Linked DNA regions of Homo sapiens: regions 2, 3, 4, 5 and 6 are each linked to region 1. The links come from fine-mapping of genetic effects on gene expression. A gene starts in region 1. Each other region holds a variant in brackets. All regions are shown on one strand. Distances are between the middles of the regions.

The links. PIP is the estimated chance that this variant, and not a neighbour inherited with it, causes the effect.
Region 2: its variant is fine-mapped to the expression of ERC1 in lung (TOPMed, PIP above 0.99). The same link has a PIP of 0.9 or more in fibroblasts and whole blood.
Region 3: its variant is fine-mapped to the expression of ERC1 in CD4 T cells (Kasela 2017, PIP 0.93).
Region 4: its variant is fine-mapped to the expression of ERC1 in whole blood (INTERVAL, PIP above 0.99).
Region 5: its variant is fine-mapped to the expression of ERC1 in whole blood (INTERVAL, PIP above 0.99).
Region 6: its variant is fine-mapped to the expression of ERC1 in lung (TOPMed, PIP 0.97).

The regions. Positions count from the first base shown.
Region 1 is chr12:989,017-994,088 of GRCh38, forward strand. It overlaps ERC1 (ELKS/RAB6-interacting/CAST family member 1), which reads left to right and starts at 2,207. Exons shown (of 19, transcript NM_178040.4): 1 at 2,207-2,306. It also overlaps a transcript of RAD52 not described here. RefSeq lists enhancers at 1,038-1,600, 2,162-2,723 and silencers at 1,422-1,471, 1,882-1,991, 2,012-2,521, 2,727-3,021.
Region 2 is chr12:1,164,898-1,169,969 of GRCh38, forward strand. The region is part of intron 8 of ERC1 (ELKS/RAB6-interacting/CAST family member 1); the gene reads left to right. Among named protein-coding and RNA genes, the nearest start is that of ERC1, 180 kb to the left of the region's middle. The variant A/G (reference allele first, on the strand shown) is at 3,028.
Region 3 is chr12:152,567-157,638 of GRCh38, forward strand. IQSEC3 (IQ motif and Sec7 domain ArfGEF 3) reads left to right here. Exons shown (of 14, transcript NM_001170738.2): 6 at 4,459-4,581; 7 at 4,962-5,072. Among named protein-coding and RNA genes, the nearest start is that of IQSEC3-AS3, 5.9 kb to the left of the region's middle. RefSeq lists an enhancer at 470-1,384. The variant G/T (reference allele first, on the strand shown) is at 2,064.
Region 4 is chr12:1,021,931-1,027,002 of GRCh38, forward strand. All of the region lies in intron 1 of ERC1 (ELKS/RAB6-interacting/CAST family member 1), which reads left to right. Among named protein-coding and RNA genes, the nearest start is that of ERC1, 33 kb to the left of the region's middle. The variant G/GA (reference allele first, on the strand shown) is at 2,912.
Region 5 is chr12:1,494,835-1,499,906 of GRCh38, forward strand. ERC1 (ELKS/RAB6-interacting/CAST family member 1) reads left to right here. Exons shown (of 19, transcript NM_178040.4): 19 at 1-1,097. Among named protein-coding and RNA genes, the nearest start is that of LINC00942, 3.1 kb to the right of the region's middle. RefSeq lists an enhancer at 4,954-5,072. The variant A/G (reference allele first, on the strand shown) is at 2,935.
Region 6 is chr12:1,095,072-1,100,143 of GRCh38, forward strand. The region is part of intron 3 of ERC1 (ELKS/RAB6-interacting/CAST family member 1); the gene reads left to right. Among named protein-coding and RNA genes, the nearest start is that of ERC1, 110 kb to the left of the region's middle. RefSeq lists an enhancer at 1-24. The variant C/T (reference allele first, on the strand shown) is at 2,795.

The DNA.
Region 1 (5,072 bases):
AGAATACTTTACTCTTAGGCCCTTCAATACTCAGTTAACCCAAATCTCCCCAGATTATCAGAGTGCTTAATTTTAGCCTGGATAAATGCCTAGATATTGTATCTGAGATATAGGGAGGGTTCTGCTCTTCCTTATATAGACCTTTATTTAGTCTCCCTGGTCTCAACTCTGCTTCTCACTCTTGCTCTGTCTGGTAGTTATCTCCAAATCTCCGTCTCCCTAAAGCACTTCTGGGCTGACAGGTCCCCTTCCTTTCTACAGCACCCTCTACACCCATTCTACATTATGCTTTTCTCCATTTTATTTTGTCAGACCACACTTACTTTTTGCATGTCAAATAAAAAAAAATTATCTTCCGATGTCCCCCTTCTCATTTTCTATTTTGTATCACTTTTATTTATCATCATTTTATGGGGTCTCAGGAAGAAGAGACAGTAAATACATGTGCTCGGTTAGCTAGCTTTAATCAAAAATCCTAAACGTAGGTTTTAAAAAAGATAACTGGAGCAGGGCAGGAAATAATATTTTTTGCCAGTGTGGTGGCAAAAAATAAAAAACAAAAATCTGAATCTGTGTTAGGACAGTATTTCCGTGTATAACATAGCGCTTAGCAACTTAATTCTCCAGATCCACATATTTTAAGGACATGATGTATCTCAGACACCTACTTCAAACCTCACTTTACAGTTAAGTAAGACCACAAGTAGAATGAATTGCCTGAGGCCACACAAGTAGACAGTGGGAGAATGAGAACAGAAATATCTATTGACTCCTAGTTGAATTTTCTCTTACCTTACCACACTGCTAGGGAGTAACAAGATGGGCAGATCACGAGTCAGATGAGAAAGGTCATGAAAAATAGTCAAAGGATGACTTTTCCTGGGTAAATAGCCGGATGTCCAAGAAATGAAAGGCTGGTCTGGCAGCAGCACATCGTCTAACAGTTGGTAGTCATATGTGGGAAGTACTGAAGGGGGAGATGACAGCAGGCCCAGAAACTGCAATGATCCAAGTGCATGTCGATCCTGGGAGGGAACAGTTAAGAGTCCGGGCAGGATGAAACAGTAGAAACTGGTGAGTGAATGAATGTGAAGGCTGAGGAGCGACTGCAATTTGTTAATGGGATTATGAGGCAGTATAAAGTGGTTAATTACGGTGGCGGAGGTAAGCAGGAGTAAAATGATGGCTTTTAACTCCTCTCAAGGACACCGAAAATTATTTTAATAAACACTGGAAGGCTGGGAATAAATATAATTCACACCATTCTTACTTTCTTGGTTTAGAGATAGCTTATCTACATCCTTAAATTAATGGCTGTAGCTACCCTCTGCATGGCTCCAAAAAAAAAACAAAAAACAAAAAACAAAACCAAAGCCGGCTGCGAGTCTGCACGAGAAAATCGGGTTGCACCAGGCCCCAGCCGCCCGCCGATTCGCTTAGCTGTCGGAGGCTAAATAAACAGCTCCCGAAGCAGCGTTTGGCACAGCGCAGGGTCGGAACGTGGACACTAATTTCCGCCCACGCTCCCCGCGTCCTGGCGGGATCACCACAGACACGACGTCCATTGCTGGGGTCCTCGGCGATGCCCGTGTGCGCAGCCCCGCGAGTCTCAGGTCAGAAGACCACTAATTTCGCGGCCGCGTTCCACGAAGCTAAGGGGCAAAAAACCAGCTTTCTTGGGACAAAGCGTCCCCCCAGCAGCCAGGGTCGATCCCGGCGCTGCTCCCGCGGCGCTTGGCTGCCCCGGGCGTAACGGGCCACGAGAAGTAGGGGGTGGGGCGCCGCTTAGGTTTGGGAAGACACGAAGCGGCTCCTCGGGCTTCCAGCGTCCACTTCCTACGGCAAGCAGGAGGAGACAAGCGCCACCCTGCGCTCGCGGAGCCGACCCCGGCTCTCCCCTCCCGTGGCCGCAGGGGTCGTGTGTGTGTGTGTGTGAGTGTGTGTGTGTGTGCAGGGACGCTCCGCGCCCATCACTCTGTTTCGGTGCTAATCGACCGCCGTGGCGCCGATTTCCCCCGCTTCCCAGTTCCTCACCCGCGTGCCCCGGAAGGCGCCCGGAGGCCCCCGGGCCGCCGCGTCACGCTCCCGGGAGGCTGAGGGAAAGGGAGGCAGCCGAGCCGGGAGCCCGGGGAGGCGCGCTGCGCCCCGCGGCGGGGCTGGGGGCGGGGCTAGGTGTCTCGCGCAGGGGGCGGGGCGCGGTGACGTCGCGGGCGCCTGGGCCGTGCTGTGGCGGCGGCGGCGGCGGTAGTGGCGGCGGCGGCGGTGCCTGGGCGGCAGCAGCAGCAGTAGCGGCAGCCCTGAGGACGGTGAGACGGCCGCGGCGGCGGCGACAGCGCGGAAGTCGCGCGGGACCCAGAGCTTCCCCCCTGTCGCTAGTGCTGAGGCTTTCGCCTTTCCTACCCAGCTTCTTGCTCACGGCCCGGGCTGGGCTGGGCAGGGCAACGCGCCCCCGGGGAGGGGCGGAGCTGTAGGTGAGGCTTCGCGACCCCCTCCCCCTCCTCGGCAGCCCGGGGGGTGGGGAGGGGCGGGCCCCACCCAGACCACCGGCGCCCACCCGCGGGCTCCACCCAGCCGGGCTCCGGGATCGGGCGGGAGCCGAGGCGGTAGATGTGGGGATCCTGGGGCGGGAGGTGGGGGAGTGGGGACTGGGGCTCTGGGCACTTGGGGAGCGGAGGGGGGGAGGCTTAGGACTAGTGAAGCCGCGGACGAGGTAGTGGGGAGACGGAGAAATTGGGGAGCCATGAGGTTGGGGTGCGGTCAGGGTGGATCTTTGGGTTAGGTGAGTGATGTAAAATGCTGAAGATGATTCTTTTCTTTTCGATGAAATGGTGAGATAAAAGATGAAGTGTATTTCAAAAGGACGATGAGCTGTGCATGTTGCCTTTGAGGCAGTTGCAGAACCTATTTTATTGCACTAGATCTCACGTTTCTACTTTAGGGTTCGATTCTTTTTCTTCTGGCGGGGTGGGTGGGGGGTCGGAGAGGGAAGAGAATCCCCTTACTTTGGCTCAGGTAAATTGTGAGCGTGGATGTATCTGAAAGTTTTACACCGAAGAAGAGGGAGATCTTCGGTTTAGACAACTTCGTTCCGGCAGCCACCATTTGGGTCGCATTACGCTTAGCTCCTTCAAGGTGGTGTCTTCCAGTTTTTTTTCCCCCCAATGCCTAAAAGATCTCTTTATACCACCCTTTTACAGGCTTTATCCTGGCCCCTTGAGAGAAGGCCCCAAACTCAGGTGGTTGCTTTGGAAGGCACATTGCTGAATAATAGTTGCAGGTGGTTGTGGTTGACTGCTTTGGGTGGATAAAGTGAACAATTGGAATAGTTCTGTTGGAGCTAATTATATGAAAAATGCTTAAATGTTTTAAAGTACAACCGTCTTTTATAGCGTGTTGCTTGCTCAGTACACCTTGACTTTTAGACATTTTGTGTTCAGTGCTAAATTGTTGAAATTTTATTTCTCATTTGCAGTTATGTTTCTTGCAGTCTTTATTAAAACACTTTAAAATGAAATGGAACTCTTTTTTTTTGGTAGGCTCCTCAATTTCTGAGAAATGTTCTTGGAGTCAAGTGCTTTAAAAACATTTTGGGGGCAGGTGTGTCACTTTGTATGGAAATATTAGAGTAAGCAGTGTTCAATGTTCTTCACATCACTCTTTCACAACTTAGCACTGTAAATCAGAATCTTCTTTTCTGGATTCTTGCTCCCTGTTAGATTACAGTATTCTCTGGCCCTACTTATCAGTTAGTGTCATTTAAGCTATTTCTTGTTCAGAAAACAGGTCCCATGATGGACATGTATTATGTAATGGATGGAAGTAGACATGGCTCTCAATAATTCATTTATGGAGGAAGAGAAGCTGTCAGAAAGTGGGATTTAAGCAGTGACTTTCCCAAGGCTTGCCTAGTTTATTTGGGAAAATAGCCAGAGAAGTGCTTTCTTGTAACCCAAAAGAGAAATATACAGATAAGAATTTCAGTAGTTGCAGATCGTTGCTTTTTCTAAGTGCCTACTTAATGAGCAGATTATTGTCTTCCAGCAAATACTTCTACTTTATAGAGAGGTATGGGAAACAGGACATAATAGGTATTAAGTGAGAAAGTGTGTGTTCCAATTTTTAATTATAAATAAAAGATTTAATTAACTGTATTCAGTTAATTCATTTGGTAAAGTGAACAGTTTTGACTTTGGATTAGTTAGAAGGAAAACAAAATTGACATATCTAGTTTTCGCTTTTAAATTATACATAGACTTAATTAATTGGGACAAATGTGAACTAAGATACTGGGTAAAACTTGTGTGTACTCCTAAAATGACATTTGCATGGCTGGTAGTAAGCTGTGATTCTTGTCCTTGTAGGAATGAAATCACATAATTTGGGGAAAGTCTTAAGGTAAAAGTAAGCTATTTCGTTTAGCATTTCTTGTGCCTGAAATTATGCCTACATTTTATTTTTCAAAAAATGTTGCTTGCTAGTCATTACTTGTGATATCCTTGTTGAGTCTACTGAGGTGTTTTTTTTCCTTCATTACCTGTGTCATAGATAAGTATGCCAGTCTGTTAATTCAACATTAATACTGCAAACTTAAAAGTGAAGGTTCTTGGCCGGGCGCCGTGGCTCATGCCTGTAATCCCAGCACTTTGGGAGGCCGAGGCAGGCGGATCATGAGGTCAGGAGTTCGAGACTAGCCTGGCCAACATGGTGAAACCCTGTCTCTACTAAAAATATAAGAATTAGCTGGGCGTGGTGGCACATGCCTGTAATCCCAGCTACTCAGGAGGCTGAGGCAGAAGAATTGCTTGAGCCTGGGAGGCAGAGGCTGCAGTGAGCCGAGATCATGCCACTGCACTCCAGTCTGGGCTACAGAGCGAGATTCCATCTCAAAAAATAAAAATAAAAATTGGCTGGGTGTGGTGGTGCACACCTGTAACCCCAGCTACTCAGGAAGCTGAGGCAGGAGAATTGCTTGAACCTGGGAGGTGGAGCTTGCAGTGAGCCGAGATTGCACCACTGCACTCCAGCCTGAGTCACGGCAAAACTCCGTCTCAAAAAAAAAAAAAAAAAAAAAA
Region 2 (5,072 bases), 180 kb after region 1:
TAACCAGAATGGAAGTGGAATGTTTCTATTTCCATGTTCTGCTCAGTGTTTTAATCTGTTATTTTTAGGGTTTCTACTGTTATCTGTTGCTTTCAAACAAGCTACTCCAAACCAGAAAGAATTCTGAACAACTTAAGAGTTGTTTTACCTAATTCAGGAATTACCACAGAGTATAAATGTAATTCATAGGAAGAAAGTACAGAAGAATAAGGTATGTGGAAAGGAAGAGGACTAACAGAAGGTGAATTAATGCTACTTACTGATTTTGGCAATTCACCTTGGGTGAGAAGCACGACTGTCTAGATGGAAACTCTTGTGTATTAGTGATCTAACAAGAACCAGTGTGCTTGCTACAAGACTGCCTTTTAGAAGATAGAGGTGTGTATAGATGATACACAGAATGCAGGAGAATTTTTTTTTTTTTTTGAGATGGAGTCTCGCTCTGTTGCCCCGGCTGGAGTGCAGTGGCGCGATCTTGGCTCACTGCAAGTTCCGCCTCCCGGGTTCACGCCATTCTCCTGCCTCAGCCTCCCGAGTAGCTGGGACTACAGGCGCCTGCCACCATGCCCGGCGAATTTTTTTGTATTTTTAGTAGAGACGGGGTTTCACCGTGTTAGCCAAGATGGTCTTGATCTCCTGACCTCATGATCCACCCGCCTCGGCCTCCCAAAGTGCTGGGATTACCTCGGCCTCCCAAAGTGCTGGGATTACAGGTATGAGCCACCGCGCCTGGCGAGAATTTTTAAGAACATTAAGAAGAAATAAACATGGCTAAACTGTTTTGTGTTATTTGAGGGGGATAAAGCAAGATACATCTCAGAACTTAGAGTGTTTTCACAATTCGTTGATGGATATTGCTTTGACCTAGCACTGAGGGGTTAATTTGGATGGAATTTTTTTTCCAATCGAGCTAGAATTCACAGATCATAAAATTTACCATTTTAAACTATATGATTCAGTGGTTTTCAGAATATTTACAATGTTGTGCAACCATCATCACTGTCCAATTTTCATCACTTCAGAAAGAAACTCACACCTGCTGGCAATTACAACCCCTCATCCTCTGACAACCAGTAACCTCCTTTTTGTCTCTATGGATTTGCCTATACTGGATGAGACCTTCGACTGTGAACTTTTGAGCTAATGCTGAAATGAGTTAAGGCTTTGGGGGATATTGGTTTTGAAATGTGAAGACATGAGATTTGGGAGGGGCTGGGTCGAAATGATGTGGTTTGGCTGTGTCCCCACCCATATCTCATCTTGAATTGTAATAACCACAGTTCCCATGTATTGTGCGAGGGACCCAGTGGGAGGCAATTGCATCATGGGATGGGTCTTTCTCGTGCTGTTCTTGCAATAGTGAATAAGTCTCACGAGATCTGATGGTTTTATAAAGAGAAGCTCCCCTGCACAAGCTCTCTCTGTCTTTGCCTTGTGCCTTCCAAGCAAGTCACATGGTGGCTTGCCTTCCAACATGATTGTGAGGCCTCCCTATTCATGTGCAACTGTAAGTCCATTAAACCTCTTTTTCTTCCCAGTCTCAGATATGTCTTTATCAGCAGCATGAAAATGGACAAATACAGAAGGCTTTCAGTCTTCACCTTGAAGTATGATGTTGACTGTGGGTTTTTCATAGATGCTGTTTATCAGGTTGAGAATTCCCTTCCATTCCTAGCTTGTTGCATGTTTTTATCATAAAAAGATGTTGGATTTTATAAAATTCTTTTTCTGTATCTATTGAGATGATCATTTGGTTTTTCTCCTGTATTCTGTTAATGTGGTACATTATATTGATTGATTTTTGTATTTTGAAACTAACCTTGCATTCCTGGGTAAAGATAGATTTGTTTTTAAATAGCTTTGTGTTTTTCAGCTGGATGAATGTAGAAACTTGTTCTATCAGCATTATTATGGAGACAATAGAAGTGGACCTGAGAGAATATAGCCTTTGGATAAATGCTTAATTTTCAAGTGCTAAGGTGTAATATAAATGGACATATGCAAAGGCTTATATTGTAATATTTTTACATCATGGAAATAATTTTGACTCATTAAACATTATTTCTTTGGGCTTTTAAGTAACTTAGTGAATAATTTGAGGATCTGTGCTTATCTGTGTCGTTTCTCATCTGTTGTTAATACGCCACATTAATGTTCTCAGAGTCTTGCAAGTTCTAGTTGAGTGTTTTGACCGAGCACACATTTTAAACTTGAAAATTGATAATTATCAAGTCAATAAGGAAGGGTCAGATCCCTCTTCTGACAAAGATTGTTCTTAGTTGTTTCTCAGGAGATCCTGTAGCAGGAACTTGTCAGAGTAGTAAATACACAGACACATATCTAGAAAAAGACAAAAGATTTAGGGAAAAGTGCCTGGTCGCAGTTTTAAAGCAGAGTCAATATTTTCTTCTGCTTAAAAACTGCTTATAACTTGACATAAATTCTCTTACATTGCATTCTCATCTGTGGGAATGGCTGTTTGGTTAGATGCCCAGGTATCTGTCAACTCTAGTTGAGAAATTGAAGTAACTAACCACGTGAAGAAGTTATTAAATCAGACTCTGATGAAGCAGCCTTTTATGCTCTTCCTTTTTCCTGCTACACCAGTATGTATATCCTAACCAGAAAATAGCTTCAAGAATCAGACATCTATTTTGTTCTTTATCTGTTTTATCTTCCTGTAATTGTCAGACTTCCTCAATTTTTTCTCCTAATGATTTTTTTTTCCTAAAGGAGTTTTTCAGATTAGAAAAATCATGTAATTTTACAGAGAAAAATTTGCAAAATTCTATAAGATCTTTGGGCTTCTTTTTTCTTTTCTTTTTTTTTTTTTTTCCGAGATGGAGTCTCGCTCTGTTGCCCAGGCTGGAGTGCAGTGGCGTGATCTCAGCTCACTGCAACCTCCGCCTCCTGGGTTCCAGCAGTTCCCCTGCCTCAGCCTCCTTAGTACTCGGGACTACAGGCGCGCGCCACCACACCCTGCTAATTTTTTATTTTTACTGCAGACGGGGTTTCAGCATGTTGGCC[A/G]GGATGCTCTCGATCTCCTGACCTTGTGATCCACCCACCTTGGCCTCCCCAAGTGCTGGGATTGCAGGCGTGAGTCACCGCGCCCCGTCAGCCTTTGGGCTTCTTATATACAGTGCATATAGGTAAGAAACTGACATTTGGATTTGTTTCATTGCATCCCATTCAGGCTGAACTCTGCCTTATACACAGCAAATTTGGTATTTTTATTTTTTTTGAGACAGGGTCTCATTCTGTCACCCAGGCTGCCGTGTAGTGGTGCGATCGTGGCTCACTGCAGCCTCAACTTCCTGGGCTCAGGTGATCCTCCTACCTCAGTGCTGCAAGGAACTAAGACTACAGTTGTACAGCACCATGCCTGGCTGACTGTTAATAGTTTTTGTAGTAGAGATGGGTTTCGCCATGTTGCTTAGGCTAGTCTCAAACTCCTGGGATCAAGTGATCTACCCGCGTCAGCCTTATGAAGTGCTGGGATTACAGGTGTGAGCCACTGCACTGGCCAAATTTGGCACTTCTATAAAGCAGCTAAGCAAACAACTTTAAATGAAGTGACTGGTCTTTTTTTTTTTTTTTTTTTTTGGAGGAGGAGTCTTGCTTTTGTCGCCTAGGCTGGAGTGCAATGGCGCAATCTTAGCTCACTGCAACCATCGCCTCCCAGGTTCAAGCAATTCTCCTGCCTCAGCCTCCCGAGTAGCTGGGATTACAGGTGCCCACCACCACACCCGGCTAATTTTTTTGTATTTTTAGTAGAGATGGGGTTTTGCCATGTTGGTCAGGCTGGTCTTGAACTCCTAACCTCAGATGATCTGCCCGCCTCGGCCTCCCAAAGTGCTGAGATTATAGGCGTGAGCCATCGTGCCGGCTGTGACGGGTCATTTTAAACAACATTCTGGATTCTTGAAAAGAATGCCACCGATTAATAATTTGTAACTTCTCTTATGCTTTTGACAGTCTGATGAAAGCTATGGGCTTTCTCCAGGTAAAAGTGTGCATAGTTCATTTGTGTGAACTGAGATATAATATACACCTTAAAGTTTATCCATGAACTTCTGATTAAAAACACCCACCTTTCACCATGACATGGTGAAGAAAAAAATAATCAGAAACACTCACCATCTATGGAACAACCAAGTTGGTGATATACACTGGTTTCTAGGTTTTACAAAATCATAAAATATGTGTATGGTTCAAATACAACAGAAATTCATGGCAACTACAATTTCATGTTAATTATAATTTAACTAGAAAGAGTGTAGCTGTTGGGTATGGTGGATGCTGCGATGATCGATGCAACCTAGGTCTCTCCTGATTGTTGAAGGACTTATTTCCCCAGATCGCTGGAAGTGTTATCAACAGAAAGCCCTCCACTTTCCCTAGAGATTGTCTTAGCTAAAGACACCACCTTGCCCGAGGGCAAGCCCCCTCCCATGGACATCCAGTGATTGATCCTTATGAGGTGCCATGGTTTGAATTCCTTCCCCCTACTTGGGACAACAGCTTCAGAGCTCCTCGTGGGGTTGTCAGAATCCTTTGGGACTTCGTGGCAGCTGAATCGCTCCCTCTGTACAATCCTCATTTTTCTCCTCCTATCTACTGACTCCGATCCCAAAGAGCACCGTCTAATAAACTTCTTGCATAATAATGTCTGTCTCAGGGTCTGCTTTCCGGGAAACCCAGTCTTGGGTAGAATACAGGGTAGGATATGAGTGCAAGTCAGCATCTTTCAACCCATAAAAGTAGACCTGGCGAAAATAAAAATTCAATGAGATGAACTTGAATTTAAATTAAAAATAAGTGAAACATCTCATCATATTTCCTTCACACCTTATATTCAAGTAGTTTTTCAGAGTCTTGGTTTCTTTGAATTTATTTGTGTCTCTCAGTCTTTCTTTGAAGAAAGACTCCCCAAATCTCTGAAAGCTTGGTTTGTTTGGTTACACATTATGAACTTGTGAAAGGTGTGGGTTAAATAATACAGTTGCTTACATGCCCCAAAGAAACCCCTAGAGGTTTTCTATGTTGGCAGGTGAATATGATAAGAGAATCTC
Region 3 (5,072 bases), 840 kb before region 1:
GGTACAATGGTTCATATTGCACAAGCTTGAGAAGATGAGGTCATTGCACACATAGTGAAGCACTTAGAGCCATACTCAGTACAGAGAGCTCAGAGGGAACTCCCCCGACTTGAGTAAGGGACCTCCCTGCCACCCCACACACACACAGGAGTGAAGAGAAGAGAGCCCAGTGGGGCAGGGAGAGGCCTCACAAGATTAGGAAGCTGAAAGCCTGCTCTCCCTAGCTGTGGGAGCATGGGGCCAGCCCTACGTGGCATTAGTTTTGTCTTCTGTAAAATGGGGAGATGATACACCAGAAAAGACCACCCGGGAATGTGTGGTGCTCTTTACCTTAAAGATGACCAATGAGGAGAGATGACTCCAGGCCACCCTGGGTGGAGGCTGCAGCATGGATTTGGTAAACTGCCCACACTCAGCTCCCCAAGAGGATTCCAGGGCAGCAAAGAAGGCTGGAAAGTGGGAATTAGGAGTGCTGGTAGACACTGCAAAATAAGAGAAGCAGCAGGACAGAGAGTGAGAGAAGGGGAGGGAGCAAAAGAGGGCACGGTGCAAGCAGAAGCTTATGCTCAGGGAGTGAACAGAGGAGGCTCATGCTGTAGAGGGCCGAGGCTTATAGGTGCTTCCAGGGGGACACGGACCCTGGAATGAGCAGGGCTTATGGTAGACAGCACAGTCCCACCCCCAGCCACCTTCCCCAGGATGACACAGGCCCCATCAGGAACGCAAACAGTGATCAGTGATTCCCCCTAGAGGAGGGTGGGGATGAAGCCACCAGCCAGCCAGGAGTGCTGCTGCGGGTCGTCTGCCCCCTGCCGTTGGGAGCGTCTGCAGTGCTTCAGAGATGGCCCGTGCCTCCGGGTGCCAGTCCTGAGAGGTCACCTGGTCCAACCCCCAGCTCTCCAGTGAGGAAGTGCCTTCCTCAGGCAGGAGGGTAGAGTGTCCCACCACTCAGCACAGCTTCCTCCCTTCCAGCTAGGGATTTCACAGCCAGAAAATGTCATTTTTTCCCCCAGGGTCTGAGAAACCCAGAATAGCACCTGTTCATGAAACACAGATACCCTGTGGTGGCAAATGCAGTGAGGGGAGGAAGGCAGGACGGCAGGTGCATAGCCAGGGGAAGAACTACATCTGTTTATGCCTCCATCCACCCCTCCCTCACCACCCCCATGCAAAAGCAGCCCCGATAGCCAGGTGGGGACACATGCCCCTAAGGACGGCTGCCTGGTGGCCTGTGAGTTGCTGGACTCACTTTAAAAGCCGCAGTGAGGCCTACCCTTGCACTCAGCTCAGTCTTTGGTTTCACAATTTAGGAACAACCGGGAGATCTTGCAGAGAATGCTGATTCCCAGGACTTGCCCCCAAATATTCTAATTTGCTGGGTCTGGGGTGGGGTCCAGCGAGCTGCATTTTAACAAACCACCTTATGACTCCGCTGTGGGGTCCTGAGAGCACACACTGGAAGATGTTGGATGAGAGGCCCTTCCAGCTCCACAGCCCAAGTGTCCACCCCTGCAGCCCTCCCCGCTTCGAGGCCCACGAGGGGTGTATTCAACTCCCATTCTGTGGGCCGACTTTTCAACCTGGCTGCTTCCCCCATCCCGGTCCTTGGCTCTCAGGCTCTCAGCTCACTACCGGGGCTTTTAGCAGCAGACTTGAGTGAGTGAACGGCTGCTTGTCACCTGAGTGAAGGGCTGGAAACTAGGCCATCGTGCTTGGCTGGGCAGATGCCACCCTCACCAGCTGCTCCCGCTGCCTCTGCGGCAGCCTGCCCCCACAGTGCCCTGGGCCTCCCAGCACCCCCACCATTGCAGGGTGAGACCTGGTCCATAGCCCTGGGGCAGAAGGCACTCAGAGAGAGGCTCTGGGAGGAACGTGGATGTGGGAAGCCGGGTGCCAGGACCTCAGCGTTCAGAAACAGGGAAGGGGTGGGGTGCACGACAGATGGGGGCAAGTCCTGGGGAGCAGCAGGATGGCACTCAGAGGGACCAAGGGCCGTTCTGGGGCCCTGAGGACCCAGGCCTCTTTCTTGGCCTCATAAGAGTCAGCGCCCCTGGGCTGAGAGG[G/T]TGGCATCTGGCCGCTCCATGCCGCCCCCACCACAGTCCGCGGTGCACTTCACATCTTCATCTCTACCAGACTTCTTCTGTCTCTTCCTCTTCCCCTCCTGTCCCTTCCTCTCCTCGTGCCTCTCTGTCTTTCCGCCTTCCTCCCTGTCTCTGTTTTTTGCTTGTTCTTTATCTCAGTCTCCGGTCTTGCTCCCTTTTTGCGATCTCTCTCCTGCCTTTTCCTCCTTGCCTGTCCCTCCCTTTCTCTCCTTGCTCTCTGTCGAATTAGACTTTCCTTGTCCTTCGCTGCCCCGCCCCATCTCTCTGGCCCACACGCTCTGACCCCCTTGCTGCGTGACCATGCTGGTTCACCTCCTCCAGGCTCTCTCTGTACTCATCGGACCACAGCCTCTTGGTCACCAGCCCTGGACAGTGTCACTGTGTGGCTCTGTTGTGCCCAGTTGCTGACTCCTGATGGGCTGGGCTACAGGAACACACGGATGTGGCCGCATAGGGCCTTTGGCACTCACGTAGGGCTGCAAAGGGTGCAGGGTGGAGGTGAGGAGGGCCACCGGGAAATCAGAGCAGCCTCTCGCCTGGCTGGCTCTGGAGGCCCCTGTTCCCCAGCCGTCAGCTCAACCTCAAATGCCCTGATCCTGGTGCTGCCGATTCTCATGCTTGGGCAAGATGCTGGCCTCCACCCCAGCCCCACCCTCACCTGCCCACTGTCCCGGCCAGCAAGCCTGAGAGGAGTGGGCTTTGACCAAGCCAAGGACAACTCATAGCCTGAAGATGGCCATGGGCCCTGCCTACGGGAGAGAGGCGAAAAGGAAAGAGGAGGAGAGACTCCCAGCTCCCTCTCGGCGCCCCCTCCCTTTCTAAGAGTCTTCGGTGATGCACTTTTCTCCTTGTTCTCCCCAGAAACCTGTGGGAGGCGGAGTCCATGGACCACCAGGCCCTGACCACCTCCACTGTGGCGTCTCCCCTTGTTTTCTCCTAAAAACTGACGGCAGAGTTGGGGGTCTCCAAGTCTTCTAGGCAGTGGGCACGAATGGAAGCTGAGGTCATGGAGGAAGTGGGTCCACCTCAGAGCTCATGTCACCATCACAGGGCCACTCAGCAGGCGTTTTCTGTGCTCTCGATGTGGTGGGCAGGCAGGCCAGGGGACCATGGGAGCAGAGTGGGACTGCTTGCCGGCAGTGGGCAGTGTCAGGGGCAGTGCAGGGGCTGTGCCATAGCCAGTGGGAGGAGACTAGGGTGAGTGGGTGTAGAGTGGGCAAACGTCAGCTCCAAGAGCCCAATCTAACGCGCTTGGTCTGCGTCTCCCAAAGGGAAAGCAATGCCCAGGGGACATTGGGTCCCCTGCTTTTCCAGGCCTGGACTCCTGCCTTGCTGCACATGGCCCTGGGGACAGGGCACCCCAAAGGAGGGTGAGGCAGGGTGAGGGGACTGGGAGGGTTCGGCCTCAGACCCTGCAGTGCAGAGTCCCCTGGATCGGGCTAGACCAGAGGAAGGCGCCTGCTTAGCTGGGGGGAACTGGCATGTGACCCCACACCCCCACCCACACACACTGAAGCTCGGGATGTTCACAGGCAAACCCCCCAGGGTTGGAGGCAGCATTTCAGAGGTAGCAAGGCCCTTGGGGAGCAGGGACTCCAGCCTCCTCCCTTTTCAGAAGGTCACACAGAGGCCCCAGGAGTGAGTGGGCAAGCCAGAGTCACACCAAGTTCGCAGGAGGGCCCAGACCAGAATCTGACCCTGCGTGTCACGCTGTCCCCTCACGTTAGGCACATTTGTCATTTACTCTTAGGCTGTGCCTCCCATCACAGCCTCCCCTGAGGGCTGGGGCAGCTGGGGGGAGCTGGGGCAGCTGTGGGGAGCTGGGGCAGCTGGGGGGAGCTGGGCTGCAGAAAGCCCCAGGGGCTTGAGGGGCTCTGCTCCTAACTGTTCAGCCTACAGCAGAAGGGATCCAACGGAGGACTCAGCCCCCTCAAGACCTAAATGAGAAAGTGAAATTTAAACCTGGGAGAAACACAGGCTCCTAGCGGGTCTCTGAAAGAACAGAAGAATCAATATGTTTACTGTATTATTTATGCTGAAAGCTTTGCTTGGGGTACTCTGAGGTTAAGAAGGAAGGAACTGGGATTTGGAGTTGGAAGATCCGAGTTCAGCCTCCCTCCACCCCTGTGTCCTGGGCCACCAAAGCCTCTCCTGGCCTCAGGGTTTGGGTTCCGAAAGGGCTACTGTGGCAGGTGGGAGGAGATGGTCCTCTTGGGGCATTAAAGGGCGACCCCCGGGGGTGAGTAGCCTGAGGGGCCCTGCACCTGTCCTGGCTGGGAACAGAGGCCAGCGAGAATGGGTGTTGGAGGGTGCTTAGGGTGCCACCTGACCTCACACCCTCCCTGCCTGCCCTCAGCTGCGTGGTGGACGAGATGGACTTCTCCAGCATGGAGCTGGACGAGGCCCTGCGCAAGTTCCAGGCACACATCCGTGTGCAGGGGGAGGCTCAGAAGGTGGAGCGGCTCATTGAGGCCTTCAGGTAAGGCCGCTTCCCAGCTCCACTCCCCAACAGACCCCAGCGTGGGGAAGCCGGGCCGCTGTGAGCCTGGGAGACAGGAGATGCTATCAGGAGGGTTGGACATTGGGCCAGAAACACCCCTTCTGGTGTGGGCAGGAGGATGGCTGGGGAGAAACAAGGGAAGGGAAGAAAAGGGACCGACCCCTCGAGCTCCCCAGGCTGGAAATGTGGGGCATTTGGGGGTGTGGGGAAAAAGACCAGAGTATGGGACAGACACTGGTCTCCCTGGACCTAAAGCCTTCGGAGAGCTGGGATACCCCCTGGACACCCCCTTCCTTTGTTGGGCCCGGGGGAGGGTGGGCGGGGGCTCAGCGTCCGCTCTGCATCTGACCCCCCCACAGCCAGCGCTACTGCATGTGCAACCCCGAAGTGGTTCAGCAGTTCCACAACCCCGACACCATCTTCATCCTCGCCTTCGCCATCATCCTCCTCAACACCGACATGTACAGCCC
Region 4 (5,072 bases), 33 kb after region 1:
TAGGCTAATGTATTAACCTGTAAGTAGGGTTAAATAAAATCCTAGTTCCTTCACAGTTCTCAACATTACTTATGTTTACTTTAGTGTGATACACTGTGAAAATAAGCTATACATTTTATTTTCTGTTCTATTTATCTGTTTATTTTAGAGATCCTATCTCTATTCTCCTATAGATAGGATCTTGCTATGTTGTCCAGGCTGGTCTTGAATTCCTGGACTCAAGCAATCCTACTTCCTTGGTCTCCCAAAGTGCTGGGATTACAGGCACAGGCTATTGTGCCTGGCCAAGAAGTACATTTTATATTGTGATCCAGTATGCACATGTGCATGCATATGCACACCTGAAACATTGCAGAAAACAATACTGTTATCTCTTGTTGCATTACAATTACTTCAGAACTTACTGGATTTGAAAAACAAACATCTCAGATTTCATGAAGAGTGTGTTGGGTGATTCTGGCTCAGGGTATGTAGTGATTTTATTTCATTTAAAACAAACAAGAAAACAAGCTTGGTTGCAGCTTATCAAGCTGATTTCACAACCTACTATTGGGTCATAATTCTAAGTTTGAAAAACACTGACTGGGGACTGTTACCGTTTGGCTGTGTCCCCAGCAATCTCATCTTGAATTGTAGTTCCCATAATCCCTACATGTTGTGGAGGGACCTGGTGGTAGCTGAATCGTGGGGTCGGTTACCCCATGCTGTTCTGATAGTGAGTGCTCACGAGATCGATTTTATTTTTTCTTTTTTGAGACAGAGTCTTGCTCTGTCACCCAGGCTTGAGTGCAGTGGCATAATCTTGGGTCACTGAAACCTTTGCCTCCTGGGTTCAAGTGAGCACGTCTGGGTAATATTTGTATTTTTAGTAGAGATAGGGTTTCACCATGTTGGCCAGGCTGGTCTTGAACTCCTGACCTCAAGTGATCCACTGACCTTGGCCTCCCAAAGTGTTGGGATTACAGGCGTTAGCCACCGCGCCCAGCCTAGATCTGATGGTTTTGTAAGGGGCTCTTCCCCCTTTGCTTGGCACTTCTTCCTGCCGCCATGTGAAGAAGGATGTGTTTGCTTCCCCTTCTGCCATGATTGTAAGCTTCTTGAGGCCTCCCCAGCCCTGCAGAACTGTGAGTCAATTAAACCTCTTTCTTTTATAAATTACCCAGTCTTATGGGTAGTTCTACATAGAGCTTGAGAATGGACTAATACAGGACTCTGAGGCTAGAGGCAGGCAGTCAGGTTAGAAAGTTGTTTTAATTCAGGTAGGATAGGATGGCATAAACCAAGGTAATAATTGTGGGAATGGAGGAAGAGGATCAATTTAAGAGGTACCTAGAAATCAAAGCAACAGGAATTGTATTGTTTTGATAATATGTGTGTATATGGAGTATGAAGATTTTGGGAGGACTCTCAGGCTCTGGCTTGAGCAGCTGATGTTATTCATGTGAATAGATGTTGTCCACTACCATGTTCTTTTTTTGATTTTTTTTTTTTCCCCTGCAGCAGCAGGTTTGGTTTTGGAATGGGGAGACCTTGATACGGAGTTCAGTTTGGGGGCATGGTGTATTTGAGGTGCATGTGAGGAGTATAAGTGAAGATGTCCAGAAGTGGGATACATAGTTTTGATTCTCAAAGGAGAAGTAAAAAAGTACTGGAGAAGTAGTGAATTTGGAGTCTTTGTTGTACATATGTTATTTTAAGCTGGTGGAGGCAGGGAGAAAGGATTTCTTAAGGATGATATTGTAGTGTGAGAATAACATAGGGATGAAGATCAGAAACATTTAAGGGAGGAACGAACAAAGAAGGAGGAGGGTTAGAAGAAAAGAGCATATGATATAAAGAAACCAAGAGAGGAGAGTGTCAAAAAATTGGGAGTGCTTAAGAAACAAGATGTATTATAGACAGAAGTTAAAAAGGCATTAGAGAGGAAAAGTGTTCATTAACTAAGGTTTCTCTGGAGAAGCCAGAGGGAATGGGGACTAAAGTACCCTGTGGAAGGATTAGCTGTAGCCCACTTCCATCAGAATAGAGGAAGTTAAGGATGGTTGTTGCTGTCAATGAACATGTGGAGAGAGAAAGTTGAGATAGTTCCTGTTTGATTTCTTTGTTTCTCTCTTATGTAGGAGATGAGATACGTAAATTTGATAGGGCTGCTGTAAGAAAGTACCATCAGCTGGGCACGGTGGCTCACGCCTGTAATCCCAGTACTTTGGGAGGCTGAGGCAGGCGAATCCGTTGGGCCCAGGAGTTCGAGACCAGACTGGGCAACATGGTGAAACCCCACCTCTACCAAAAATACAAAAATTAGCTGGGTGTGCTGATGCTCGCCTGTAGTCTCAGCTACTCGGGTGGCTGAGGTGGGAGAAGTGCTTGAGCCTGGGAGGTTGAGGCCACGGTGAGCTGTGATTGTACCACTGCACTCCAGCCTGGGTGACAGAGGAGACCTTGTCTCAACAAACAAAAACACAAAACATCTCCCGCCTCTCCACCCCGCTCCCCCCACAGGTTTGAAACCACCTGCCTGTTATTTCAAACCACCTGTGTGTTCACATTTTTGAGGACTTTTAACCTGTTTGACCAGAATAGATACTGTCTTTAGAATCTCATTTTTGACAATATGATTTACTTGGTACTGTTTTCAATGAAGAAACACTTATAAGAATCAATTTACATAACAATGGATTTTGGGAAAATATTGTTTAATATGCTGAAGCCTGTTGTTACTTGACCTAAGCCAATGCTTTGAAATGATGCTAGGAAATCAGAGAGATCTAGTTTAGATCTATATTGTCTTTGAAAGAAGTCTATAAAGTTGATAGCTATAGTTTAGTGGGTTCTGCATCCACAGCTCAAACCACCTGTGGACCAAAAATATTTGGGAAAGAATCTTAAAGTCACCTTGAAAAAAAAAGTG[G/GA]AAAAAAAAAAAAAAAGAAAATACTTGGGAAAAAATAATACAACATGGAAAAATAATACAAATAAAAAACACAATAAGTATAACAACGATTTACATAGCATCTACATTTTATTAAGTATTATAAGTAATTTAGAGATGATTTAAAGTATGCTGGAGGATATCCATAGGTTTTATGCAATTACTGTGTCATTTTGAATCAGGGACTTGAGCATCCTGGGATTTTTGTTGTCTGGGGCAGTCTTGGATATCTGGATACGTTCTACTGGAGCCAGTCCCCAGCAGATACCAAGGGACAACTGCCTGTGGTTTTAAAATTTGTTTTAGTTATACTTGTAGAGTATGAACATGTTTTCTTTTTTGAAAAAAAAATTCAGGTGCTTTATGGTAGTTTGAGTGTAAAGCTTTCTAAGTTGAGCTAAAGCCTCCACAAACATTTTTCCCCTTTATAACACAAGTTTCCTTCCCTCTAATTATCGCTGTTTCAAAATTGGCATTTCCCGTGTAGGAATTCTTTACATACTCTGTTTACAGATCATTATACTTATGTTCACTGTATTTTTCACCTAGCTTTTGGTTTATCTTTTAATTTTATTTACAGCATTTTTTGGTATAATACTTTGTCATTTTGACATAATTAAGTGTGTTGGTTGTTTTTCTTTATGGTTTTTGCTTCTGGTTTTTTATTTAAGAAGCCTTTTCCTAACTCAAGTTCACAAGGATATTCTTCAAAATTTTCTTCTAGTACTTTTAATGGCTTAAAAAATTTATATCTTTAATGTATATGGAATTTATTTTGGTGTACTATGTGAAGACGAGTATACGTTATGTTTCTCAAAGAGCAACAAGTATTTAAACTTCATTTATTGAGTGATTTTTCATTTCCTCACTGTATTAGTCTGTTCTCATGTTGCTAATACAGACATACCCGAGACTAGGTAATTTAAAAAGGAAAGTTTTTTTTTTTTTTTTTTTTTGAGACGGAGTCTCGCTCTTGTCACCCAGGCTGGAGTGCAGTGGCGCGATCTCGGCTCACTGCAATGTCTGCCGCCTGGGTTCAAGCTTCTTATGCCTCAGCCTCCTGAGTGGCTGGGATTACAGGCACCTGCCACCATGCTTGGTTAATTTTTGTACTTTTAGTGAGATTGGGTTTTGCCGTGTTGGTCAGGCTGGTCTCGAACTCTTGATGTCAGGTGATCCACCCGCCTTGGTCTCCCAAATTGCTGGAATTACAGATGTAAGCCACTGCACCCTGCCAGGAAAGAGGTTTAATGGACTCTCAGTTCCACATGGCTGGGGAGACCTCACAATCATGGCAGAAGGCGAATGAGGAGCAAAATTATGTCTTACATGGCGACAGGCAAGAGAACTTGTGCAGGGGAACTCCAATTTATAAAACTATCAGATCCCATGAGACGCACTCACTACCACCAGAACAGTAGAGGGGAAACTGCGCCCATGATTCAGTTAAGTACACCTGGCCCCACCCTTGATACATGAAGATGATTGCAATTCAAGGTGAGATTTGAGTGGGGACACAGCCAAACCATATCACTCACTGTTTGGAAACGTTACTTTTAACATATATTAAATTCCCATATATAATTTAGACCCTGTTCTTGGGCTAGTACTATACAGTTTTCGTTATTATAGTTTTACAAGGCTACAATACTTTGTAAGAAACCTTGCAGGTCAGATGTGGTTTTGTTGTCAGGAATTTTTTCCAGTAATACTTAGTGGACATTATGTAGTATCCAGTAATCACACACATTGTTTTCTTAATGAAATATATGAAGTCACACTATGTGGGATACATATAAACAGTAAGTAAGCTCAGATCAGGTCAAGGTTTGCTGCTAGATGAGTTAAAAGGAAAATCTTATTTTCAGAGGTTTTTGGATTTTTGCAGTACAAATGAAGAATTATGGATTTGTAATTTATGTTGCTGTTGAGGGCTGTCTTCCTTCCTTGTTCATCTATTTTAAATTGTTTGGTTACTCTTGTATCTTTACTCTCCATTTGAATTTTAGAGTCAGCTTGTTGAGTTACTTGAAAAATCCTTCAACACCTGTGAAAGGAAGGGATCTATAGCTGGTTAGCAAAATCCTGTAGAGATTTTTCACTGGGATTGTGCTAAGTAGTTGGGGAAGAACTAAATCTTAGC
Region 5 (5,072 bases), 510 kb after region 1:
GCAAACCAATATCTTGTTAATAAAGGAATTCAAGCTATGGGGCAGCCACACTCCCCTCCTCCCAGGCTGGCATAGGTGGCCCTGGGCTGGCGGCTTAGGAAGCATGGAGCACACTTAGGGTAGTGCCTGCCTGGGCAAGAGACACCTGCCGAGCAAAAGGAACGAGAATCTGGGGCTCAGAGCCTCGCAGTTGTGCCAGGATTTTCCTATACATGTTCAGGACCTCTGGGTAGAGGTTTCACAGTTTGTGACCCCATAACCACCCTCACCCGACGTGGGTTCTAGCTCAGTGTGCCTAATACTGCATGGTAACCTGGGCTTGACCCTGAAGCCCCTGCCTGGCAGGCCACAGGACCTCTCCTGCCCACTTGGTGCTATCTCTTCCAGTGACCACCCAGCACGGGTGAGCACTGGCCAGCCTGGAGCCTGCAATCCAGGTGGAACAGACTGTCCTCCATGTCAGTTCCTTCTGGCTTCAGGCCCTCAATTATTTCCCTTTGAGCTTTTTTAGACCCTAGATCTCCTAGGCCCAGGCTCTCTCTTGACCCCAGAGAAGCCACTGTCAGGAAAGGAAGTGAACCCTACTGAAGCCAGAGAATTCACCCCGGCCAAAGCAGGCCCTCTGGGTCCAGCCCCTCATTCCACACCACGCCAGTATTGCATCCATCTACTGCAGCTACACATCCTGAGGGCAGCACCACCCACTCTGGCCTGCTGGCCCATCGCAGGACTAGCCCAGGCACCTGCCGGGCATTGCAGGATATCCAGTGGGGCCTGTGACTGCTCCCTGATGCGTCAGAAGAGAAGTGTTGCACTTTAGTGGAGGAGCTGAGGAGCACCTGCCCCCTTGTAGCTTGAGTTCCTTTTGGTAACAGTAGCAGCCTCCATGGTGGTGTCTGGGATGCACGTGCACCCGCTGCCTTCAGCTGTATGTGTGTGTTCCTGCTGGAGTTGTGTTACTGACAGGATAATGACATTACAAAGAAATTGTGTTATATTCAACTTTGCCTTGATAATTATTGTAAACACTTTGTTCATTTTTTCTTTTTTATTCACAAACTAAATCCACCAGGAAATTATAAAGTTATTTAAAAACCGTGCTGTGTCCTTCTTTGAGTGTCACCCAGCTGATCATCCAGGCAAGGTGTGTCCCCAAATGCTAGAAAAGATGGACAAGGTCTGCAGTGCCCAAGAGGCCAACTCCAATGGCAGGCAGCCCGAGGGCCAGGGGTCCCAGGATTTACGGTGGGTGTGGGAGTCATCACAGCCCTGACGGGCATGAGCCTCCTTTCCCTTCCCGCCTGATCTCCGGGTTTGCAGCTTTTAAAGTCAATTCCCGGTTCCCTTTTTCCTTCTTTCTACCCTCAGCCCCGGGCCAGGTTATCCGTATCAGGTCTCACTGTTCCAGAGCTTAGAGTAGGTGCCCAGCGCTGAGGGATGGTGCTGCTGTTGTACCAAGGTAGAAGAGCCAGAAGGGCGGCCACCAAGGGAGGGCTTTGCCCAGGACTGGGACTCAAGCTTCAGCAGGGCGCGTTCTGATGCACTGACTCTGGGGCGTGCAGGCTGGGTCAACAGAAAGTGTGTGTGCCAAGAGTAAAAGGAGCCGAGAAACCCTGTGCTTGGACGCGGCTGTCATTTCCAGCTTTGGGATTTGTCTTGGGCTTTATGCTCAATAAGAAATTATTCTGGAGGATTTCTTTTATGAGAATTACTTTTCTGCTTAGCCACACTTCTGTGTCTGCCCGAGAGAGGAATCAAGCCAGCTTGCTGCATTCCTTCCCTCTCCCGTGTAAATTCTGCCACACGCTGGGTGTTGGCTCTTGGGAATTGTAGCAAGAGAGTCCAAACTCGTTCTTCCCGGTCGGCCCTCCCAGTGCCCAGGTCCCACCCTGGCCTCGCTCTCTGCAGCCACAGCAGCTGTTGGGAAGCTCTGCCAGGGGAGACGTGCCCGGGAGACAGGGCGCTGTGGACACGGCTGCAGGGCTGAGGTTGCTTGTACTTTCATCATATGAAGCAGGAACAATTTTACTAGCCGAGCATGTATTATTCTGCACAATATAAAATCACAACCACAAGCAAATGTGTCCACAGAAAGCTGTCAGATTACACTGGTCAGCTGTTTCCAAGGTTTCCCATTCATCTTTTTTACTATTTATTCACCCTGCATTCTACCAGTGCCCAGTTGCAGGCAAGTGGACACCGACAATAGATTTAAAGAAAATATGTGAAAACTTTTAAGAATTCCATCCATTAATTTTTTTTCGGAACTGAGAGAAGATAACTAGTACTTTATTTTTGAGGTGGAATATCTCAGGCTGGCTCAAAAATGATTAGGAGCTACTTAGGGACTGGGTGCTGTAGCTGAAACCTTTAATCCCAACACTTTGGGAGGCCAAGGTGGGAAGATCACTTGAGGCGAGGAGTTCGAGACCAGCCTGGACAACATAGTGAGACCTCTCTCGTTACAATAAATTAAAAATTTAGCAGGGCATGGTGGCATGTGCCTATAGTCCCAGCTGCTTTGGAGGCTGAGGCAAGAGGATGACTTGAGCCCAGGAGATGGAGGCTGCAGTGAGCTGCAGTGATCACACCACTGCACTCCAGCCTAGAGGTGCAGAGAGAAACCCTGTCTCAAAAAAAATAAATAGGCTCTGGGGCTGGGGGGAAGCTGGTGTGAGGTTTGTGAGCCTTCCCAGGTGTCCTGGAAAGGGCCCAGACTCGCAGACTGCAGCCCTGGGCTGCCGCTTGACCTCCCAGCCTCTTCTTCACCTCTGAAAGAATGCCTCCTTCATCCCTGTCCCCAGCCTAGGTCATAATGAAGGTGCCGTAGGATAATCTTTTTCCTTTTTGAAATTTTCTTTACAGAGCATAAATTGCTTTCTTAACATCTGCGATTCACTTAAAAATAATCAAGCATGTCTGTCGGGGAGGAGC[A/G]AGGGCGTGGAGACAAAAGATGGGCCAGAGGTCGGTAATTATGAAGCTGGGGAACTGCGTGCATGGGGTTTGTAAGTCCATTCTCCTTATTCTTGTGTTTGAATGTTTCCTGAATCAGTTAAATATTCACATCCTTCAACTGTACTTGCCCATACAGGCCTCTTCCTCCGAAGATCCAAGCACTCTGCATTCACAAAGGGCCACCGTAGCGCTCCGTTCAGAATTTGTACTTCCCTGTGTTCTAGACTCCAGGCTACAAATAATAAAAGCTAGTGACATGTGGACCACCTGCCAGCTTCAGTTCTGAGCACTGCACAGGTTTGGTGTCGGTTCACCTTCACAGCAGTCCTACAAGGTGGGTACTGTTATCCCACTTTACAGGAGAGGCACAAAGTGGACGCACGACCTTCCCAGCGCCACACAGCATGTTAGTGGTGAGACTGGAATTCACACCCGACTCTGTCTCCAGAGTGTGTGTTCTTCAGCCCACTGCTGTGGCCACCTCCCGGGGAGGACAGTCTGCTGGGGACAGCTAAGCCCAGTGAAGTGCAGTGGGGCACGAGAGCAGGCAGTGCTCGTCACACAACTTCAACAGGTGGATTTTGCCGGAAAAGGGGGTGAAGGGAAGCCAAAAAGACAGATGAGCAAGACCAGGGAGGTAGGAAAGTACGAGGAGGGCACTTGGGACAGCAAGTGGCCAGTGTGGACAGAGGACATGCGTACTGCCTGGCTTCAGAGCGACGAGGCGCGGCCGTGGCCGCAGGTGCAGCATGAAAGGGGATCCCCAGTGCCCTAGGAAGGAGGCCAGCTTGGGAGACACGATCTCACAGCCCCAGTGGTCCCGACCCCTCCCCAGCTACCGACGAAGAAAAGCCTCCCCAGGGGCTGATATAAAAAAGCAAAGGAAACACCCCTGGGCACATGCATTCTGGAGCTGCCAGCGTGTGACCTGAGGGAGGCTCCCCAGGCCACGTGCAGAGAAGCTACATGAGGGGACTCTGCTTTCCTAAGGGAAGGAGGATGTTCTTATTGATACATTGAGAGACACATCTGGCTCTGTCACCCAGGCTGGAGTGTAGCACTGCAATCATAGCTCACTGCAGCCTCGACCTCCTGGGCTCAAGTGATCCTCCTGCCTCAGCCTCCTGAGGAGCTGGGATAACAGGTGTGTGCCACCATGCCCAACTAATTTTTTAAACTCTTGTAGAGATGAGGTCTCACTATGTTGCCCAGACTGGTCTTGAATCCTGAGCTCAGGCAATCTTCCCTCCTCAGCCTCCCTAAGTGCTGGGATATAGGTGTTAGCCAAAGCACCAGCTGACATGGGACATTGTTTTTACCGCATCCAGGCAGGTGGGCCCTTTAGAAAGGGCATCACTCAATCTTCAGTTACTCAACATGAGGTCTGTATTTTGCCTCCCTTCACCTGCTTTTCTGGCAGAGAAACTAGAAATGAAAGATTAAGTTGCCCTGAGTTATACAGCAACTTAACTGGACCTGGGTTCAGAATGGGTCCATCGCTGCCAAACCTTTCTCTGGCCCCAGACTCCCTGACAGCCTCAGAGGGGTTGAGGCATCAGGGCCACACTGTGGCTGGGGGTTTCAGAGGAAAGAGAAAATAACATGCGTGGCTTGGTCACCATTACGGTGGATGTGAGTCACGTCAGGATTTCAGGCTCCGTTTGGCTCTGGGCAGTTGATTTCCTGGGAATGAGGCGATGAAGCCCTATGAATGTTCTCTCCTCCAGGCCCTCAATGGGACAGGAATGAGGTTTGCAGCTTGGTAGTGCCACTCCAGCCCTCCCTGTCCACAGGGACCATTCCTTTGCCGTGTCGTCTGGGGAAGAAGCCATCCCCTGCCATAGGCAATGGCTTACAGGGTGACCTGGGACATCCGTGCCTTCGGCTGGGTTCAGCCGTGAAGCACTCTTCTTCCCAACTCCTCCTGCTGCTCCCAGCGTGCGACATTCATCTTTCCCTTCCCAAGTTAACGCTCAGTTCTGTCTTGGCCGCCTTGGCACCTTCCCGGCCCCTCAGTCTCGGTCTCCACAGCACTTGGTCGGCTCAGCCTTGTTCGTGCGAGTCAAGAACTTGAGCCGCGCTGCTCTGAAGAGGGAGAGTCAGATGTGGGCAAAAAA
Region 6 (5,072 bases), 110 kb after region 1:
CTCAGGTGTGCAAGTAAAAGTTGACTTACTTTTACAAAGAAACAACTAGGGAAAAGGAGAATTATTAAATTTTGTTTCTCAGGCGTGGTGGCTCATACCTGTAATCCCAGCACTTTGGGAGGCTTAGGTGGGCAGATCACTTGAGGTCAGGAGTTCAAGATCAGCCTGGCCAACATGCTGAAATGCCGTCTCTACTAAAAATACAAATATTAGCCAGGCATGGTGGTGCATGCCTGCGGTCCTAGCTATTTGGGAGGCTGAGGCAGGAGAATCGCTTGAACTCGGGAGGTGGAGGTTGCAGTGAGCCGAGATTGTGCCACTGCACCAAAAAAAAAAAAAAAATTGTTTCTAACTTGTTTATTTTCTAAATATAAATTAGTCATTATTCTTTAGTTATTTAAGGAGAGAAAATGAACATATTTTTTATGGTCTACCACATTTGAAAGTATATTATAGCAACATTAAATGGACTAAGACAAAAAAAGACAAATAGACTATATAACAAGATTCAGATACTTCTACCTCTAATTTTTTCAAATGAAAATTTTCAGCCAAAAAGGAGTGAAATAAAGTGACCAAATAGCATATTCTACTTCTTACACTTCTTTGAATAGTACTTCTATTTCCAGTCTTCTCTCTCTATTGACAATGCGGGAGGCATAGGCTTGATGTGCTTGGTGGGAAAGGGGAGCTTATGAGCTCACTGACTGGAAGATGTGTTCATAGTGAACTGTAAGGTGCAGGCTTCTGAATGGGAGTTTGTTTTGAGCAATGGGTTTTAAAACGTCTTTGTAGAAAAGCTTTATGCCTATGGATGGTTTAAAATACACCCCAATTCTTTATTGTACGCAGGGAAGGATTTTTTTTTTTTTTTTTTGAGATAGGGTCTGACTTTGTCACCTAGAGTGCAGTGGCGTGATCTTGGCTCATTGCGGCCTCCACCTCCCAGGCTCAAGCAGTCCTCCTGCCTCAGCCCCCGCAAGTGGCTGGGACTACACATGAGCACCACCACACCCAGCTAGTTTTATGTGTTTTTCATAGAGATGGGGATTCACCGTGTTGCCCAGGCTGGTCTCGAACTACTGAGCTCAAGTGATCTGCCTGCCTTGGTTTCCCAAAGTGTTTGGATTACAGGCATGAGCCACTGCACCCAGTCAGGACTTTTTATTCAAATGGATTTTTCGGTTTTCTTTAGGAATTAGGTGATGCTCAAGAGGAGAAATCAGATGAAATAAGTTGAAAATCTAAATTGTGTGTTATTTTTTAAAAAATGCAGTTTTAATATTTTCAAGTAGATACAGAAATACCAAATAAAAATGTTGTAAAGTATAGGTTATAAAATTTTGTTAATAAATGAAGATTGTTTACAGTTAGCAGAGTTCATTTTATTTTTACTCAGACAATTTAAAGTTCGACACTCATTTATTGAACAAATACTGTTAAATATCTACCGTGTGCCCAGTCAATCACCTTGTAGTGTGCAGAACAGATTCAACATGGACAAACTAGGCTGGGAGGAGGCTGACGAGTTTGTCGTTTTAAGGCAGGTGAGAGATTATTATGGCCTAAACTAATTAATGTGTTAGGTGTTGGGATGGAAGAAAACAAATAATTTTAAGAGATTTTAAAAACTCTTTTTTGATACAATATGGAATGCATGTAAGAAATAGAATAAAACAGGTGTATAGTTAAGTAAATTATAAAGTAAGCACCCTCATAACCACTACCTAGGTCTAGAAATAGAACTTTCACAGCCACCCAGAAGTCCTGTACGTGAACCAACCCAGCCAGAACTCTCCCTTCCCTCTAAAAGTAACCAGTGTTCTGGGTTTTATAGTTATCATGCCTTTGCTTATTATACTTATCACATCTGATCCTTACTATCATAGTATTGTTATCTTGTATTATATGTTAAATTAATATCATTCCTAGGTATCATCCCTAAGAATTATGTCTTTGTTTTGTCTGTTTTTCAAAAATATGCTTTAAATCTCTTAATTACCGATTTGCCCTTAATTCCTCCTTTTTTTTCTCGTGCAGTTGGAGCATTTCTTGGCTTATTAGCTGGAATGACAATTCCATCATCTTTGTAATATCCATGTTTATTTCAGTGGAATGACTTCTCTCCTGGTTGTAGGTCATATTTTCCTACTTCGTGTGTATAGAATTTGTGGTATGATGGACATTTTGGACACAAGGTGATTGAGTATCTGGATTTTGGTACCTTCCTTAATGAAGGGTTGTTTTGTCTGGCAAGAGTTAATTTACTTGGGGATTAACTTGATCCTTTCAAGACTTGCTTTTAAACTCTGTTAGGCCTGGTTTAGAATAGCCTTTTCTCTAGGCTACATCAGCTCTACTCCTAAGCTTGACCTTTTAGTGTCTCTACTAAATGCCTCTGCTGTTCTCCCCACTATTTGGAACTTGAATTTTTCCCAGCCCTATGGGGTTCAGGTAGTTACTCAACTCATGGCTCTCTGATAGTTGCTCTTTCTCCAGTAGCTCTTGATCTTATTTTGTGGCAGCTTGCCCTATACATGCACAGCTTAGTATTTGGCCAAAGACTCAAGGGGACCCTTGTCAGGTTAGACAGTGCTGCTTTTCTGGTAAGCTCCCTTCTCTGTGTTTTGTTTTTAATTTTTAATTTTTTTTTTTTTTTTTGAGACAGAGTCTCACTCTGTTGCCCAAGCTGGAGTGCAATGTCGCGATCTCGGCTGACTGTAACCTCTGCCCCCCAGGTTCAAGCGATTCTCCTTCCTCAGCCTCCCGAGTAGCTGGGATTGCAGGTGCCCCC[C/T]ACCATGCTCAGCTACTTTTTGTATTTTTGGAAGAGACGGGGTTTTGCCATGTTTGCCAGGCTGGTCTTGAACTCCTGGCCTCAAGTGATCTGCCCGCCTTGGCCTCCCAAAGTGCTGGGATTACAGGCGTGAGCCATGGTGCCCGGACCTCTGGTATTTTGCTCCGCAAAGTTTTGCAGATTAATGGGAACCTTACTCATTAAACTGTCTTTGGAGCTTTGCAAGACTGCTGTTCTTTGTTTGGGCTTTCCCTCCCTACGCCCCATACTAGACATATCTGGGCCATCACCTTGTTTATTTTCTCTCAAGGATCATAGTCCTGTATTGCTTGTTATCCAGGGTCTGAAAACAGTTATTTCATGCATTTTGTTTAATTTTATGATAGTTTATGACAGGAAGGCCCATCTCACCTTATGGTCAAAGTGAGAAGTATAATGGTAAATTTATTGAAAGATTTAAAGCAGATTAATGCCATGATTTGTGGATATTTTATCAAGATCACCCTGGTGCTCTCTTGAAAATAGACAAAGGAGGTGGAAGAAAGCTAACTAGAGGCTGTTGCAAACTAGACTGGAAATGGGGTGAAATGGTTAGACTCAAGAAATACTTCCGCACTAGAACAGTTAGGACCTGCTGTTGACTTGGTTGTGGGAAATGAATATCAGGAGGAGAAAAAGGAGAGCTTTGGTGTTTGGCTTGAGCCACTGGAATGGCAGTGCCATTTAATGAGACAGAGAAGACTCATCTCTCATCAGAGTCACCAGATGATGGGTGAGATTGAAGAAGAGGAAATCAAGAATTTTTTTTGATAAAATAAGTGTGAGTTGCCTGTTAGACATCTAAATAGAGATGCCAAATGGGCAGTTGGATGTATGAGTCCTGAAATCAGAGCAGAGGGCAGGCCTAGAAATTCATCAGCATTTCCGTTGTATTTTAAACCATGTAGTAGATTAAAGAGTTTAGATGGAAAAGAGAAAAAGGTTAGAACTGATCACCTGGTCACTGGTCTAATTTAGACCTGGAGGTCTGATTTAGAAGGAAGAACCTGTGAAGGAAACAGAGAAAGTGCAACTGGAGAGTGAGAACTAAAAACAGGAGAGTGTGATGTCCTAATAGTCAAGAGAAAACAAGTGTCTAGGAGGGATTGGGCCGTTGCTTTGAATGCTTCTGAGAGTTCCAGGGAGATGAGGACAGAAATGTGTTTGTTAGAGTTGGTAACTTAGAATTCGTTGGTGGTCTTGATGAGTTGTTTCAATGGAGGGGTAGAGAAACAAGCCAGATTAGGCTGCTTTTATGAGGTAAAGGGAATCTTGTATGTCTGAAATATTTTAAAATTAATTAAAATAAAAAGAGTGAATGGGAGAGGGAGAGGAAGAAGGAGAGATAGCAGGTGTGGACCAGCTGTCTTCAGGGCAGGCATTTGAACACCTTGGAGTTCACAGAGACTCTGCAGTGGTGTGTGGGCAGTTTCAGATTCTCAACTCCCATGTGTCATTCTCTGGATTTTAGTTGGCCGAAAACATACCTGTGAGATCATCTTTCCCCTCCCTTTTTATGGTTGCACTTTGCCCACTCTAACTCCTGTTCATCCTTCAGCTCTCAGGTGTTCCTTAGGAAACTTTACAAGATCCCAAGACTACGTCAGGATCTCCTAATTACTCTCTTACAGTATTGTGGATATTTTCTTTATAACACTTTTTACATATGAATTATACAGTTACTTAAAAAGTATTTTCATTCATTTGACAAATATTTGAGTACTATCATTGTACTGTGTATTGTTCTGGGTGCTGATATACATCAGAGAATAAAAAAGAAAAATTCCTGGGATAGGAGAGACAAACAATAAACAAACAGTTATAAATACCAAGAAAAAAGTAGATCTTGGTTAGGGAGATTGGGGATGTATATTAGAGTCAAATCATAAGTGAAAATGGGGTAATAAGGATGAGCCTGCTTGAGACTTTGATTTTTTTTTTTTTTTTTTTTTTTTTTTTTTTTGACAGAGTCTTGCTCTGTCACCCAGGCTGGACTGCAGTGGCACCATCTCGGCTCACTGCAACCTCCACCTCCTGGGTTCAAGCCATTCTCCTGCCTCAGCCTCCCCAGTAGCTGGGATTGCAGGTGCGCACCACCAGGCCCAGCTAATTTTTTTGTATTTTTAGTAGAGATAAGATTTTACCATGTTGGCCAGGCTGGTCTTGAACTCCTGACCTCGTGATCCACCCGCCTCGGCCTCCCAAAGTGCTGGGATTACAGGCATGAACCACCGCTCCC